Linked DNA regions of Homo sapiens: regions 1, 2 and 3 are each linked to region 4. Evidence: fine-mapped expression QTL. A gene starts in region 4. Each other region holds a variant in brackets. All regions are shown on one strand. Distances are from middle to middle. Region 1 overlaps FANCA (FA complementation group A). Region 2 overlaps TCF25 (TCF25 ribosome quality control complex subunit). Region 3 overlaps DEF8 (differentially expressed in FDCP 8 homolog). Region 4 holds the start of VPS9D1 (VPS9 domain containing 1).

Evidence for each region.
Region 1: its variant is fine-mapped to the expression of VPS9D1 in whole blood (TOPMed, PIP above 0.99).
Region 2: its variant is fine-mapped to the expression of VPS9D1 in monocytes (Schmiedel 2018, PIP 0.95).
Region 3: its variant is fine-mapped to the expression of VPS9D1 in naive CD8 T cells (Schmiedel 2018, PIP 0.95).

Annotation. Positions count from the first base shown.
Region 1 is chr16:89,748,228-89,752,227 of GRCh38, reverse strand. FANCA (FA complementation group A) reads left to right here. Exons shown (of 43, transcript NM_000135.4): 31 at 6-90; 32 at 2,326-2,498; 33 at 3,461-3,569. Among named protein-coding and RNA genes, the nearest start is that of ZNF276, 29 kb to the right of the region's middle. The variant T/G (reference allele first, on the strand shown) is at 1,740.
Region 2 is chr16:89,876,551-89,880,764 of GRCh38, reverse strand. All of the region lies in intron 1 of TCF25 (TCF25 ribosome quality control complex subunit), which reads right to left. Among named protein-coding and RNA genes, the nearest start is that of TCF25, 5.1 kb to the right of the region's middle. RefSeq lists an enhancer at 591-1,260. The variant T/AT (reference allele first, on the strand shown) is at 2,331.
Region 3 is chr16:89,959,338-89,963,551 of GRCh38, reverse strand. It overlaps DEF8 (differentially expressed in FDCP 8 homolog), which reads right to left. Exons shown (of 13, transcript NM_001242818.2): 7 at 2,457-2,621; 8 at 1,688-1,815; 9 at 1,427-1,540; 10 at 109-189. Among named protein-coding and RNA genes, the nearest start is that of SNORA119, 8.1 kb to the right of the region's middle. The variant C/T (reference allele first, on the strand shown) is at 2,122.
Region 4 is chr16:89,718,621-89,722,834 of GRCh38, reverse strand. It overlaps VPS9D1 (VPS9 domain containing 1), which reads left to right and starts at 1,937. Exons shown (of 15, transcript NM_004913.3): 1 at 1,937-2,072; 2 at 3,733-3,808. The coding sequence starts at 1,974. ZNF276 (zinc finger protein 276) reads right to left here and starts at 1,298. Exons shown (of 11, transcript NM_001113525.2): 1 at 990-1,298; 2 at 1-304. The coding sequence starts at 1,194. RefSeq lists silencers at 671-1,130, 1,211-2,330, a cis regulatory region at 3,640 and an enhancer at 3,556-3,725.

The DNA.
Region 1 (4,000 bases), 30 kb before region 4:
TTCAGCTCAAGGAGTTATGACCACTCAGAAAATTCTGATTTGGTCTTTGGTGGCCGCACAGGAAATGAGGATATTATTTCCAGATTGCAGGTGAGTTTGAGGGTGCCACAACTCAGTGCATTCACTTCATTTAAGCCGCGTGCTATTAAGATATTTATTGCCAGGCGCGGTGGCTCACGCCTGTAATCCCAGAACTTTGGGAGGCCGAGGCAGGCGGATCACACAGTCAGGAGATCGAGACCATGCTGGCTAACACGATGAGACCCCGTCTCTACTAAAAATACAAAAATTTAGCCGGGCGTGGTGGCGGGCACCTGTAGCCCCACCTACTCGGGAGGCTGAGGCAGGAGAATGGCATGAACCCAGGAGGCGGAGCTTGCAGTGAGCCGAGATTGTGCCACTGCACTCCAGCCTGGGCGGGCGACAGAGTGAGACTCCGTCTCAAAAAAAAAAAAAAGATATTTATTGTTGGCTCAGGCTTGTAATCCCAGTACTTTGGGAGTCCGAGGCTGGTGGATCACCTGAAGTCTATACAGGTAGGCAGCATGTACCTGTGTGGGTTCACTGTCAGTCAACAGGCATTTACTGGTGCTGGCCACCCGTGCGTCTTCTGTGCCAGGCCCCTGTCTCTCCCTCCGCCAGCTCTGGGGCCTCCCAACTCCTTAGCCAGATGCTTTCCCTAGACCCACCTGGCTCCTTCTCAGTGAGACCATCTGCTTTTTCCTCTTAATTGTAATCATAATTATTATTATTATTGGGACAGGGTCTTGCTCTGTCACCCAGGCTAGAGTACAGTGGTGCGATCATATCTCTCTGCAGCCTTGACTTCCTGGGCTCAAGCAATCCTGACAGCGTGCACCTGTGTGCGCCACCACACCCAGCTGATTTTTTGTAGAGACGGAGTTTTGCCATGTTGCCCAGGCTTGTCTCGAACTCCTGGGCCCAAGTGAACCACCCATCTCGGTCTCCAAAATTGTTGGATTACAGGCGTGAGCCACTGCACCTGATCTTTATTCTTCTTTAAAAAATACAGCCGGCCAGGCACGGTGGCTTATGCCTGTAATCCCAGCACTTTGGGAGGCTGAGGTGGCTAGATCACTTGAGGTCAGGGGCTCAAGACCAGTTTGGCCAACATGGTGAAACCCCATCTCTACTAAAAATACAAAACACTAGTCAAGCATGGTGGTGTGTACCTATAGTCCCAGCTACTCAGGAAGCTGACTTAGGAGAATCAGCTGAGCTCGAGAGTCAAGGCTGCCATAAGCCAAGACTGCACTGCCGCACTCCAGCCTGGGCAACCGGACTGAGACTGTCCTAACAACAACAACAACAACAAAAGACTTGTGAGGCAAAAATGATGTGTGGGGTAAAATGTTAGCCAGAGGTTAATCTGGGTGAAGGGCACATGAGTGTCCTCCTGCTGTTTTTTTTTGTTGTTGTTTTGTTTTGTTTTGTCTGTTTGTTTTTGAGACAGAGTCTTGCTCTGGAGTGCAGTGGCGGGATCTTGGCTCACTGCAGCCTCTACCTCCCGGGTTCAAACTATTCTCCTGCCTCTGCCTCCTGATTAGCTGGGATTACAGGCGCCTGCCACCACACCCAGCTAATTTTTGTATGGCTAATTTTGTTGGCCAGGCTGGTCTTGGACTCCTGACCTCAGGTAATCCATCTGTCTTGGCCTCCCAAAGTTCTGGGATTACAGGCGTGAGCCACCATACCTGGCTGTTTTTTTTTGTTTGTTT[T/G]TTTTTGAGACGGAGTCTCACTCTGTTGCCCAGTCTGAAGTGCAGTGGTGCGATCTGGGCTCACTGCAAGCTCCACCTCCCGGGTTCACGCCATTCTCCTGCCTCAGCCGCCTGAGTCGCTGGGACTACAGGCACCCGCCACCATGCCCAGCTAATTTTTTTGTATTTTTTAGTAGCGACAGGGTTTCACCATGTTAGCCAGGATGGTCTCCATCTCCTGACCTCGTGATCCTCCTGCCTTGGCCTCCCAAAGTGCTGGGATTACAGGCATGAGCCACCACGCCCAGCTGTTTTTTCTTAATTGATAAGTAGTTGATAAGTAGTACTGTAACTCCTGGGCTCAAGGAATCTGCCTGCCTCGGCCTCCCAAAGTGCTGGCATTACAGACGTGAGCCACAGCACCCGGCCTGCACTGTTCTATATTTGCAATTTCAAAGTGATTTCCAATTGAAATAGCTTGCCCCACTTGTTCCTTCTTGCCCTGTCCACTGTGGAGACCTCTCCCTGACCCCTGACGTCTGGGTCCCCGACTGGCTGGGCAGTGAGCCCCGAGGCCTTCCTGTGCCAGCATACTGCTCTTTTTCAGGAGATGGTAGCTGACCTGGAGCTGCAGCAAGACCTCATAGTGCCTCTCGGCCACACCCCTTCCCAGGAGCACTTCCTCTTTGAGATTTTCCGCAGACGGCTCCAGGCTCTGACAAGCGGGTGGAGCGTGGCTGCCAGCCTTCAGAGACAGAGGGAGCTGCTAATGTACAAACGGTAACACCTACTACCACCTGGGCAGGGCAGCACCACCTGGGCAGGGCAGCATCTCATGACGGTCCTAGAGGTTCTTTGTAGTGAGTTTGTTTCCCGTTACTTACTTGTCTGTGTGTCCCCACCCCAAGCCTGTCCATTTCTGTGGCACATGCCACGGAGAAGAGGATCTGGAGGGTTGAAAGTACTTTTGATTAAAACCTTCCAGCCAAGCGAGGTGGTTCATGCCTGTAATCCTAGCATTTTGGGAGGCTGAGGTGAGTGGATCACCTGAGGTCAGGAGTTTGAGACCAGCCTGACCAACATGGCGAAACGCCATGTCTACTAAAAATACAAAAAAAATACAAAAAAATTTAGCTAGGTGTGGTGGCGGGCACCTGTAATCCCAGCTACTCGGGAGACTGAGGCAGGAGAGTGGTGTGAACCTGGGAGGCAGAGGTTTCAGTGAGCCGAGATCACGCCATTGCACACCAGCCTGGGCAACAGAGCGAGACTCTGTCTCAACAACAACAACAAAACCTTCCTGCTCAGACGTGGAGGGACGTCGCAGAAGGAGCTCTTGTGAAAGTAGGGAAAAGTGTTCAGAAATGCCCACGGCGGCTGCATTTATAAGAAGCAGCGTGGAGTCATTTAATTTTACAGTCATAGGGAATTGCTTCACTAGACAGACTGGTGCGTCATCCACTTGGTTATCGTGTAACTGTCAGAAGTTGTTGGTTATTATGTAACTGTTAAAAGTTGTTTGTTTGGTAACACATTTTGAATGCAGTGGGCCAAACACAGTATAGGGGAGGTGGGCTCAGAGTGCAGGCTTTGGATGGGACAGAGGGACACAGGCCAAGGCTCTGGTTCCAACAGTGGCCCTGGGTTTCAGGGTGGTGGTTGCTGCTCTGAGAGTCTGAGCCCTTGGGAAGGAGCAGAGTGTACGCTGTGCTGTCGCCACCAATACAGCCCCTTCTTTCCAGGATCCTCCTCCGCCTGCCTTCGTCTGTCCTCTGCGGCAGCAGCTTCCAGGCAGAACAGCCCATCACTGCCAGATGCGAGCAGTTCTTCCACTTGGTCAACTCTGAGATGGTAGGTGCCCCGTGTGCACGTGTCCGTCCGATCTGTCAGTGCCTGTGGCGCTAACAGCAGCTCTTGCAGCCTCCATGCGTGTACTGACCGTGTGAATTACTGAGGAAAGGGTTCAAAGTCAAATAGGGAACAGTGTCTGGAATGCCATGTGAGGGAGGACCCCACCCACAGCCAGGACGGCGACCAGCACATCACCAAACCAGCTGTAGGTTGCCTTCTCCCAAGTTTGAGTTCCTTTAGTTTCCCTCAAGTTTTAATGATTTTGACACATGGAATCGTACAGACCATTTTGTGTGCCACGCACCTCGGTTCATTTATTTCTAATCTCAACATGCTTCATGTGTAAAAAAAGCCTTGTGGTGATCTGACTACCGCTGTTGCCTGCCAGGCAGCCCAGTTATCTTCCATTTTAGACACTGCCCAGCGTGAGT
Region 2 (4,214 bases), 160 kb before region 4:
TCTCTTAGTGAAGCTGGGTGCTGGTTTACTTGTCTGTTTTTAGAGATAGGGTCTCACTGTGTTGCCCAGGCTGGCCTCAAATTCCTGTGGTCAAGGGATCCTCCTGCCTCAGCCTCCCCAGGAGCTGGGACTACAGGCACACGCCACAACACCCAATTTACTTTTTTTTTTTTCTTTTTTTGAGATGGAGTCTTGCTCTGTTGCCCAGGCTGGAGAGCAATCGCATGATCTTGGCTCACTGCAACCTCCGCCTCCCGGATTCAAGTGATTCTCCTGCCTCAGCCTCCCGAGTAACTGGGACTACAGGCATGTGCCGCCATGCCAGGCTAATTTTTGTATTTTTAGTACAGATGGGGTTTCATCATGTTGGCCAGGCTGGTCTCGAACTCCTGACCTCAGGTGATCTGCCCGCCTCAGACTCCCAAAGTGCTGGGATTACAGGCGTGAGCCACCGCGCCCGGCCAACACCCAATTTACTTTTATTAACTCATGCTGACTTCCTAAGAAAAAAAATTCTTATTTTGAGGTGTTTGACAAATCGAATTCATAAAAAGCTCTATGCCAAGCTGAACTTCAATGGAAAGGAGCCTGTGTACACGGACAGCACGCGTGATGGGCTCAGGAGCCTGCCTGTGTACACAGACAGCACACATGATAGGCCCGGGAGCCTGTCTGTGTACATGGACAACACGTGTGACAGGCTCTGAAGCCCATCTGTGTACACGGACAGCACGTGTGATGGGCTCAGGAGCCTGCCTGTGTACATGGACAGCACGCGTGATAGTCCTGGGATCCTGACTGTTTACAAAGACAGCACACATGATAGGCCCAGGAGCCTGTCTGTGTACACGGACAACACGTGTGACAGGCTCCGAAGCCCATCTGTGCACACGGACAACACGTGTGACAGGCCCCGAAGCCCATCTGTGCACACGGACAACACGTGTGACAGGCCCCGAAGCCCATCTGTGCACACGGACAACACGTGTGACAGGCCCCGAAGCCCATCTGTGCACACGGACAACACGTGTGACAGGCCCCGAAGCCCATCTGTGCACACGGACAACACGTGTGACAGGCCCCGAAGCCCATCTGTGCACACGGACAACACGTGTGACAGGCCCCGAAGCCCATCTGTGCACACGGACAACACGTGTGACAGGCCCCGAAGCCCATCTGTGCACACGGACAACACGTGTGACAGGCCCCGAAGCCCATCTGTGCACACGGACAACACGTGTGACAGGCCCCGAAGCCCATCTGTGCACACGGACAACACGTGTGACAGGCCCCGAAGCCCATCTGTGTACACGGACAACACGTGTGACAGGCCCCGAAGCCCATCTGTGTACACGGACAACACGTGTGACAGGCTCCGAAGCCCATCTGTGTACACGGACAGCACGTGTGACAGGCCCAGGAGCCCGTCTGTGTACACGAACAGCACGTGTGACAGGCTCTGAAGCCCGTCTGTGTACACGGACAACACGTGTGACAGGCCCCGAAGCCCATCTGTGCACACGGACAACACGTGTGACAGGCCCCGAAGCCCATCTGTGTACACGGACAGCACGGGTGATAGGCCCAGGAGCCCGTCTGTGTACACGAACAGCACGTATGACAGGCCCCGAAGCCCATCTGTGTACACGGACAACACGTGTGACAGGCTCTGAAGCCCATCTGTGTACACAGACAGCACGGGTGACAGGCCTAGTTTTGCTTCTTCAGTGAAGTTTTGGTGATGACACATGATTTGCTGCAATCTCTACTGCCATGCATCAGCTCTAAAATGCTGTCAATCACCGTCAGACAAACCTTATTACTGGCTGGGCGCGGTGGCTCACGCCTGTAATCCCAGCACTTTGGGAGGCAGAGGTGGGCAGATGGCGAGGTCAGGAGATCAAGACCATCCTCGCTAACACGGTGAAACCCCGTCTCTACTAAAAATACAAAAAAACTTGCCGGGCGTGGTGGTGGGCGCCTGTAGTCCCAGCTACTCAGGAGGCTGAGGCTGGACAATGGAGTGAATCCAGGAGGCAGAGCTTGCAGTGAGCTGAGATGGTGCCACTGCACTCCAGCCTGGGCGACAGCGCAAGACTCCGTCTCAAAAAACAAAACAAAACACCTTATTACCTACCCAAAAGCTGTGATTTTCATTAGTTTTAGGGTCTCAAATGGGGAACATTTCACAAGGTTCTTGTCCACGACTGATCTTCTTTAGGATAAAGCTCGATCAGCATTTCAGTTAATAACCAGGAAGGAGTTTTATCTTTTTTTAGGGGGAGAGGAAAATGTCCATTTTTCCTAAAAAAAAAAAAAAAAAAAAAAAA[T/AT]GGTGATTTTTAATAGAGACGGAGTTTCACCATGTCGGCCAGGCTGGTCTCGAACTCCTGACCTCAGGTGGTCCACCCGCCTTGGCCTCCCACAGTGCTGGGATTACCGGCATGAGCCACCGCACCCAGCCTGAGGTTGTCTTTTTTTTTTTTTTGAGACAGGGTCTCACTTTGTCACCCAGGCTGGAGTACGGTGGCGTCATCTCACCTCACTGCAGCCTCGACCTCCTGGGTTCAAGCCATCCTCCCGTCTCAGCCTCCCGAGTAGCTGTGACCACAGGTGAGTGCCACTATACTTGGACAGTTTTTTTGTATTGTTTGTAGAGATGGGGTTTTGCCACATTGCCCAGGCTGGTCTCACACACCTGAGCTCAAGTGATGGATCTGCCTTGACCTCCCAAAGTGATGGGATTACAGGTGTCAGCCACCAACCCTAGCCTGGAATGTTTTATACTTTAAAAAATTCAGTATCTTTAATAGATAAAAGGGCTCAGATTTTTTTATTTCTTCACATGTCAATTTAGATAAGTTTTATCTTTAAAGGAACTTGCCCATTTGTCTAATCTGGAAAATTTATTAGCAAGAAGTTCCTTATCGCCCGTTACTATCTGCACCATCTGTACCTGTGAACACTCCTCTCCCATCCCTGAAAATGGTAACGTACCTGGACCTTCCCTTTTTCCCTCCATCAGTCAATCTAGAGTTTTTGCCAACTCGTCTTTTGAGAGAACCAAGTTTCGGTCTCACCGATTCTCTCCATCGTGTCCATACTCTATTCTGTGCATTCCCCTCTTTGATTAGTTTCTTCCTTCGACACATTTTGAGTTTAATTTGCTCTTTTTCTAGTTTAAGGTAGAAGTTTCAGGTAAATTTCTAGATTTTTAAACACTTTTCTAATTTAAAATTTACGATGATAAAGTTCTAATCATCGTTTCAGTTGCATCCCACAAATTTTGATAGGTTGCTATTTTCATTACCAATCAGTTCAGAAAAGATTCTAGGCCAGGCATGGTAGCTCACATCTATAATCCCAGCACACTGGCTTTCAAAAAAAATTGAAAAAATTAGCCAGGTGTGGTGACACCCACTTATAGTTCCACCTACTTGGGAGGCTGAGGTGGGAGGATGGTTTGAGCCCAGGAGTTCAAGATTACAGTGAGTTATAATTGTGACATTGAACTCCAGCCTGGGCAATAGAGCGAGACTCTGTCTCCAAAAAACCAAAACACACACACACCCACACACAGCAAAAACTGACAGGGTTGAAAGTAGAAATAGACAAATCCATAATTATTATTACGATTTATTTATTTATTTATTTATTTATTTTTTTGAGACAGAGTCTCGCTGTATTGCCCGGGCTGGAGCCTGGTGGCACAATCTCAGTTCATTGCAACCTCCACCTCCTGGGTTCAAGCAATTCTCCTGCCTCAGCCTCCCAAGTAGCTGGGATTACAGGCACCCACCACCATGCCTGGCCAATTTTTTTTTTTTTTTTTTTTTTTTTAGATGGAGTCTCGCTCTGTTGCCCAGGCTGGAGTGCAGTGGCACGATCTCAGCTCACTGCAAGCTCCGCCTCCTGGGTTCACGCCATTCTCCTGCCTCAGCCTCCTGAGTAGCTGGGACTATAGGCTCCCGCCGCCACACCCGGCTAATTTTTTTGTACTTCTTTAGTAGAGGCGGGGTTTCACCGTGTTAGCCAGGATGGTCTGGATCTCCTGACCTCATGATCCGCCCACGTCGGCCTCCCAAAGTGCTGGGAATACAGGCATGTGCCACCACGCCTGGCCCAATTTTTGTATTCTTAGTAGAGATGGGGTTTCACCATGTTGGCCAGGCTGCTCTCGAACTCCTGACCTCAGGTGATCTGCCCACCTCCCAAAG
Region 3 (4,214 bases), 240 kb before region 4:
TGCTAAAGGCACTCCACGCACAAGCTGTCCGGAAAAAACCTGAGCCTGAGGTGCCTCACCACCCTGGCTGCGCTTCCCATCGGGGGCCAGTCCTGCTGGCAGTCTGACCTGCAGCAGCAGACGAGCCTCCATGGCCTCCCTGCAGGTGATGAAGTACGGCTTCATGAGCAGGATGTCCTGGCGCAGCTTCTGCAAACAAGGCGGGAGCAGGCAGGCCTCCTCAGCCAGGACACAGGGCGGCCCCTGTGTGGGCCGCACACCCGGGGCCACGGCAGGGCCAGGAGGGGTTGGTTCCCCACGAAGGGCCGAGATCTGAGTGCTTCACCAAAACCCAAAATCACAGCTCCCAGGCTGGGCAGGACCGTGAGGCTCACTTACCGTGGTCCAGAAAACCCTCCCTTCCCTCTGCCCTCACCCGGCCCCACAGGCACACAACTGTCTAGGAACCAGCAGCCTCAGGACCAAGCCAAACTTCCGGAGAAATCCCAGCTGCCTCCCCAGCCCTGGCCTTGGCAACTCAACGTGCTGCCACAGTCTCCTCCCGGGTAAAATGGGACCTGCCTCCTTTCACTACCTGGCGTGAGACGCCATCATGTCCTGCCAGGACTGCAGCTCCCGTCTGCCCTCGGCTCCCGCCCTACCTCCTCCCTCACCGCTGGCTAAGAGAGTGGCCACCAGCCCTGCACAGCCACAGAGCACCTCAAAGTGGCCGCTGTGCAGTGAGACTTAGCAGAGGCTACATGCTGGAGCCAAAGACGTGGCACAAAAAAGAAAAAGAAAGCAAATATCTCAAAAATGTACATTGATTTCATGTTGAAATAACATTTTGGATATATTGGGCTAAATAAAATATACTATTAACATTAACTTCACTTGTTTCTTTTTACTTTTTTTTGAGACAGAGTTTCGCTCTTGTTGCCCAGGCTGGAGTGCAGTGACGCGATCTCGGCTCACAGCAACCTCAGCCTCCCGGGTTCAAGTGATTCTCCTGCCTCAGCCTCCCGAGTAGCTGGGATACAGGCACACACCACCATGCCCGGCCAATTTTGTATTTTTAGTAGAGATGGGGTTTCACCATGTTGGTCAGGCTGGTCTCAAACTCCCGACCTCAAGTGATCCACCCACCTCAGCCTCCCAAGTGCTGGGATTACAGGTGTGAGCACCGTGCCCAGCTCTTTTTACTTTTTTAACGTGGCTATTACAAAATTTAATATTGTGTTCACACCTGGCATCAGATCACTACGGGACACCGCTCCAGCACCTTCAACCAAAAGGGCAGCCGCGGCGCCTGGCTCACCCTAAGCAGGTGGCCTCCCTCCTCTGCTCAGAACCTCCCGTGGCCCAGAGGAGAAGAGGGTACTGGCCCGGCCCTAGGGCCCACCTGACACAGCGCCCCCGCCCCCCACTTCCATGGCCCCAGCCTCACGCGAATCTCCACCAGCTCCTCCACGTAGCTGAACAGCAGAGGGTTGATCTCCCGGAGCCTGAGTACGGGCCGAGACACCATCAGCGCCAGGTAGCGCATGCTGCAGCGAGAAACCTGCCAGGCACGGCCGGGTGACACCTCTCACACCCACCCAGGGCCCGTGCAGCGGGCAACACCCAACCAGGGGTACACCGGCTCCACACCCCAACCCCCTTCCTGCTCTCCCTCCCCAGGGGGATGCCCCCACCTTCCAACCCCCACCTTTCGAGGCTCAAAGTCCCAGTTGTGTACAACGCGTGCAGGGATCACAGCCAGGTCGTTCCAGTGGCAGTGGCTGCAGTAGTACTGGCCGGTGTAGTCGCACTGCCTGGCCTCACTGGGCACACCCCCTGCAGGGTCAGAGGGGCCCTGAGTGTCCCTGCCTCACAAAAACCCCACACAGCTTTCCAGCCTCATGGTCTGTCCTCCCATGGACCACAGCCCTCGGGGAGACATGGGAACATGTCCTATCCTCAGCCGGAAGACCTCAGGTGGTCCCAGCGTCTCACTGACCTGTTCTCTTATCAGTAAAATGGGATATAAACAGGGCCTCACTGTAGGACCGAGGCAGGGACTTCATGAATTAACACCAGCAACTCTCTAGAAAGAAGAGCTGACGCGCACATGTGCACAACTGGGCGACAACCGTGTACTCT[C/T]CCTAGACCCCGTCTATGAGGCTTTCTGTGCTGTGTGACTTCTCCCTAGTCCTCATCTATGAGGCTTTCACACGGGGAGGCGGAGGCCAGGTCCCAGCCCTCCAGGTGCTCCTCAGTGACCTGGGTGAGTCACGGAACGGCTGGAACCTCAGTCTGCTTCAGTGAGAAATGAAACAATGGCAGCAACAGACCCTTGTCACTTCCTAAAGATATCAAGCAGGCACTGCCCCAGGGCCTCACTCAACTGTCTGACTTACGTGCCCTTACACACCTGTGCACCCGGCTCCCCGCCAGGAACAGCTCCCTCACCCTCTTCTCTCCCTGCCACCACTCACGCAGAGAGATGGGCGCCCGGCACTCGGCACAGCGGTAATCCTGGCTGTCCAGCCCTGTCTCAGGGCAGATGTTCAGTTCGTATTCAGCTTGGTGGCTGACTTTGGAGCTCACACAGGGCTTGGAGATGAGGTTCAAGCACTTACTGTGACAGCGGTAATAACACCCTAGGGTGGAGGGACACACACTTCTCAAAAGCGGGAAGGGTGCGCCTGCAGCCCAGGCCACCCTCAGCTGGCTTGCCCCCTCCCCGTGGGTTCCACTCTGAGGCCCAGATCAATCTAAGACCTCCTGGCACCAAGGGAGGCCTTAGAACCTCAAAGATCCTTTTCTCCCTGGCCCCTGAGCCTTGCCCCAAAGGTGGCCCAGACCTTGTCCTCCAACTTGACTCACATGTTTGGGGCCAACCTGCCACTCCCACCACCAGACCCAACCTGTCCAAATGTAACAAACGAAACTCCCACCCCCGACCCCAAGCCCCTCAGCTTCCCCATCTCGGTTTCAGCAGCTCCACCCTTTCAATATCATGAGTTATCCTGAAGGGTTTCTCTCTCTCTGTTTTTGTTGTTGTTGTTTTTGTACTTTTTAAGAGACAGGGTCTTGCTCTTTTGCCCAGGCTGGAGTGTAGTCGTGCAATCAGAGCTCACTGCAGCCTCAGACTCCAGGGCCCAAGCGATCCTCCCATCTTTGCACTGGAAAACCCTAGGATTACAGGCGTGAGCCACCGCACTCAGTCAGACTATTTTCTAATCTGTTACATTCCGTTTCCAAACCTTCAGCTGGACTGCCCTTAGCGACTCCTCACTCCCACCACCTACCCCAGCCCAATCAGAGTCATCCCCCTCTTCTCAGTCACCTCCCTCTCAGTCCAAGCTCAGTCAGCAGCCACAGTAACCTATTAAAGCTCAAGTATGTCCAGCACCCACTTGTGGCCCCCACTGCACTTAAAGAAAAGCCCCAGCCACCTCTGAGCCCACCTCCCCCAGAAACAGAACTGCAGCCCCACCTGGCTCTCTGCTCCTCCTTATATCAACCACAGGGCTGCCCCCACCGGAACATTCCTCCAGACACAGAGCTGCAGCCACACCTGGCTCTCTGCTCCTCCTTATATCAACCACAGCACTGTCCCCACCGGAACAGTCCTCCAGACACAAAGCTGCAGCCACACCTGGCTCTCTGCTCCTCCTTAAGGCACTGGACACATCAACCACAGGGCTGCCCCCACCAGAACATTCCTCCAGACATATTGTCTTGGCTTGCTCCCTGACCTTCAAGTTTTTGCTTAAAAGTCACGTGACGCCGGCTGGGCGTGGTGGCTCACGCCTGTAATCCCAGCACTTTGGGAGGCCGAGGTGGACGGAACACAAGATCAGGAGATAGAGACCATCCTGGCTAACACGGTGAAACCCCGTCTCTACTAAAAAAAATACAAAAAATTAGCCGGGCGTGGTGGCGGGCACCTGTAGTCCCAGCTACTCAGGAGGCTGAGGCAGGAGAACGGTGTGAACCCGGGAGGTGGAGCTTGCAGTGAGCTGAGATTGCACCACTGCACTCCAGCCTGGGCGATTGAGTGAGACTCCGTCTCAAAAACAAAACCAAACCAAAAACAAACAAAAACAAAAAACAAAGTCACGTGATGCCTTTACATTCTGCCCTAAAGTCACATTCACTCCACCCTAACACGTGCTAGGTCCTTTCCCTTTTTCTTCATTGTACAAACTAGACACACCATGTAATTCACTAGTTTAATTTCTCATCCA
Region 4 (4,214 bases):
TTTGCACAAGGCTTCCGGCGACCAGCCGGGGAGGCGTTGACCCTCTGCAGGAAGGACTTGAGAAGGCTGTGGCACTGGTAGAACTGGGCGTGGCAGCTCTTGCAGACAAACGGAGACAAGGTGGGGTCCTGGCGGACAGCCACACCAAGCAGGCGCTGGAAGTCCCGTACGAGCACGCGCTCCTCTGCGGATGGCCTCTCCATGCTCGCTCCAGGCGCCCTCTCGGAGATGCTGCGCAGGCTTCTCGAGGAAAACTTCCCGTGGCAGAGGCGACAGTGACCCATGGCGAGAGCCCGGCCTGCTCCTGCACAGAGCGGCAGGAAGTGTTAGCAGCTGGCAAAGGAGGCTCCTGAGCACAGGGCGTCCCGGACTCCAGGTCCGAGGGCAGCGCCTGCAGCGCCCTTCGCGCGGCTCCCGGACACAGCAAGCGGCTCGGGCGCGCGGCTCTCGGCGGGACAAGCCGCCCTGTGGGGGATGTGGCCGCTGGTCCAAGAAATCTTTCAAATTTCAAAGGCCTCTAAGGCCTCTCCAGCGAAGCAACTTCAAGAGTGAAACCTGGAACTGCACCCTCCTCCCAGCGACCGCGAGACCCGGGGCAGGCGCTGCGCCCTCCAGGAAACGCCGCGGTTTCCTGTCTGCCAATTGCAGGTGCCGCCTCCTTTCCGGCTCCGCGAGGGCACGAAGCAGGGGAGGGCGATTCCCACGCGCGGGCACCCCAGGGCGACCTGCCCGCGGTGACAGCGCTCCTCACGCCGGGTCCCTTCTGGCCGAGCCCGCGGCCGGGGAGGCCGGGCCGGCGACGCCGGCGTCACGGAGCGCGAGGAAAACCGAGCCGGCCGCCCAGCGCCTATCCCGACGCAGCCCCGAGTCCGCTACGCCCTTGGCCGGGTGGAGGAGAGGCCGCGCCGGCTTCCGGGCGTCAGTGCGGCTCCTCCCACGAGCAACCCCTGCCGCGACCCCAACCCGCCACGCCCGGGCCGCGGACCCACCTGCCTCGTCCGCGCCGTCCTCGCCCGCGTCCCCGCAGGACCCCACCGGGCCCCAGGCGCGCCGCGCCGTCGCCCCGTCCACCCTCGGCCCACCGCTAAGGGAAGGGCGGCCCCGAGTCCGGCTGACGCCGCCGCCGCCGTCCGAGGCCCCGCACTGTCGGGACGACCCAGGAGACAGGAAGCGGCCCAGCCGGTCCCGCTTCATGGCAGCGGAGGACGCCAGCAGAATCCCGCGGGTGCTGCCCGGCCCGAGGTTCCTAGAGGACCCGGCGTTAGGCTCCGCTCGGCGCGCTGGAAGCGAGGCGGGGCGGGGGAGGGGCGGAGCGAGAAGCAAAGCGAGGCGGGCGGGGCGGGCCAGGGGCCAGGGGCGGGACCCCGCCGGCCGAGGTTCCACCCGCGGTGCCAGCGCCCCCGCTCGTACCGCTCCCCTCTCGGGCCCGAGGGCGGCCGTGCCCGCCTCTGTCGCCAATGGAGCGCTGGCCTGGGGCGGGGCGGTGGGCGGAGGGGCTCGCCGACACCTCACGACGAGTCCTCCAGGGAGAGGCGACGCGGCCCTCACCGCCTCTTACCGTGGGAGACGGAGGCGCGGGGCGGGCAGGCGCCGGCGGAGGCCACGCGGCGCGCAGGTGGCGGGCGGGCTGCAGAAAGGGGAGGGGGGCCGGGGTCTCACGTAGAGAGGGGCCTGGCTGCCGCGGTTAGACGCCCATGGCAACTCCGTGAGGGGCCCTTCTCGCCAGCCCCGTCTCAAGACGGCGAAGAGGCCCGGCTCCGTCGCGACAACCCACCCGGACTCTGCCGCCCCCGCCACTAACACCCGTGGGGCCCGCAGTACGCGCGGAGGGGGCCCGTCGCCGGAAGTGCGGCCGCGTCCCTTCCTGCGGTCCGCTGCTCGGGCGGCTCCAGCACCAGCGCCGGCTGCGTTCCGGGCCTCCGGTCGCCCGTCCAGCCCCTCGGCTACCGCCGCCGCCTCCCCCGCTCGGCGCCATGGCCGCTGCGGCCGGGGACGGCACGGTGAAGCCGCTGCAGAGCGCCATGAAGCTTGCCAACGGGGCCATCGAGCTGGACACCGGCAACCGGCCCCGGGTGAGGCGGGGCGGGGGCGGGGCTTGGCCGCTGAGGGTGGCCCCTGGAGGGACCCCCGCCCGGGGAGGGCGAGGACGGGGCCGGCTCGGGCTGGAGACTTGGGAGCGGGCGCCAGCCGGGATCCCGGGCCGCGGTTCCCGGGCGAGGACGGGGGCGGGGCGCAGCCGGGCGTGCAGTGACCTTGGACAGCTCAGATCCTGCGGACCTTGGCTTTCCACTCCGCTCGCTGAGCCGGTGCATCACAGCCTGGGCTCCACCTGTAGAGGAGATGTAGCAGGAGGGTCCGCCAGGCCACCTTCCAAAATCCGAGTGACGGGCAGGTCCGTGCGTTCGTGCATTTTTCTGGGCAGAGATGGTAGATTTAATCCGGTTGCCACAGGGGACGGCATGCAGAGAAGGCCACATACCTGCTCATTTGTGATGCTGTTTGCAGTCGTCTTAGGAAGGAAAAGCAGGCCGGAGGGGTGTGGCCCGTTCCTGAGATGGGGCCGAATCTAAGGTTGGCGACCAGGTAGAGAAGCTGGCCCAGCCACACCCGGCTGCCCAAGGAGGGAAGGAGCCTGCCTGTGCCTAGGAGAAGCCTCGTTCCTGAATCTGCTGCTTTCCCCAAGTTGGTTTTTAGGGCAGCAGGTGCCCCCGCAAGTCAGAAATCCTGCCTGGATTATATTTCGTCTTTCTCTCTGAGGCATAGACTTAAAGATAGGAAACTTAACAGCTAGGGATAAAACAAAAAAACATAGCATATTGCTGGGCGCTGTGGTTCACGCCTGTAATCCTGACACTTTGGGAGGCCCAGGCGGTGGATCACCTGAGGTGAGGAGTTTGAGACCAGCCTGGCCAACGTGGTGAAACCCCGTCTCTACTAAAAATACAAAAATTAGCTGGGTGTGGCGGTGCACACCTGTAATCCTAGCTCCTTGGGAGGCTGAGGGATGAGAATCACTTGAACCCAGGAGGCGGAGGTTGCAGTGACTCGAGATCCTGCCACTGCACTCCAGCCTGGGCGACAGAGTGAGACTCTGTCTCAACAAAACAAAACAAACCACCATTCTGTGGTTCCAATGACCTGTGCCTTGTCAGAGGGGTCACACAGCCTTGAAAGGTAACAGTTCTAGGCTCCTGTGTGCACTGGAAATACGTAACTCGCAGGTTCTGGGAAAGGGATTTCTCGGAACTTAAACCGGGAAGTGATTTGAAAACTTCCAGTATCACTCCCTTTATCCTCTCAGAAAAGTATTTTTTTAAGCCACTGAATGAATCACCCTTGAGTTGCACAAGAAGGAAACATTGCATAGAATGAAAAATGACAGCAAACTGCTGAGGTCACTTCCCCAGGCCCACTGAATGAGAATATCAGTTCCTGTGCTGGAGAGAAAGGCAGTCAGAGGAGAAAATGAGGTCCAGCTCGTCCCTGGCTCTCTCTCTCTCTCAGGTCCTGATGTCTTTTCCAAGTCTGGAGAGCAGCGATGCTGCCTGTGCCCTGCGCAGAAAACCGTGTTCCGGCTGCAGCTAACCACCGCAGGCTCAATGTCTCTGGGTGTATCTCAGAGATAAGCAGGTGGTGGTGTTCCTTGCTTATCCCACAAGGGCACCTGGCCGGAATAATGGAGTCACTTCCCTCCACTGGCCTGACCCCACTCTTTCTCTTTCCTGGACACAGGAGGCATACACGGAATACCTGAGGAGCATCCACTATATCTCCCAGGTGTTACTAGAAGAAGTGGAAACCACTAAAGGTACGGCTCAGCCAGCCGGGCGCGGTGGCTCACGCCTGTAATCCCAGCACTGTGGGAGGCAGAGGCGGGCTATCACCTGAGGTCAGGAGATCGAAACCATCCTGGCTAACATGGTGAAACCCCGTCTCTACTAAAAATCTAAAAAATCAGCTGGGCCTGGTGGCGGGTGTCTGTAGTCCCAGCTACTCGGGAGGCTGAGGCAGGAGAATTGCTTGAACCCGGGAGCAGAGGTTGCAGTGAGCCGAGATCACCCCATTGTACTCCAGCCTGGAACAAGAGCGAAACTCCGTCTCAAAAAAAAAAAAAAGAAAAGAAAAAGAAAAAGGCATGGCTGAGCCCTGCTGCTTCCTCCATGCTGGACAAATTGTGGGCATCCTAGCCCTTGATGGGTGCCAGGCTTCGGCGG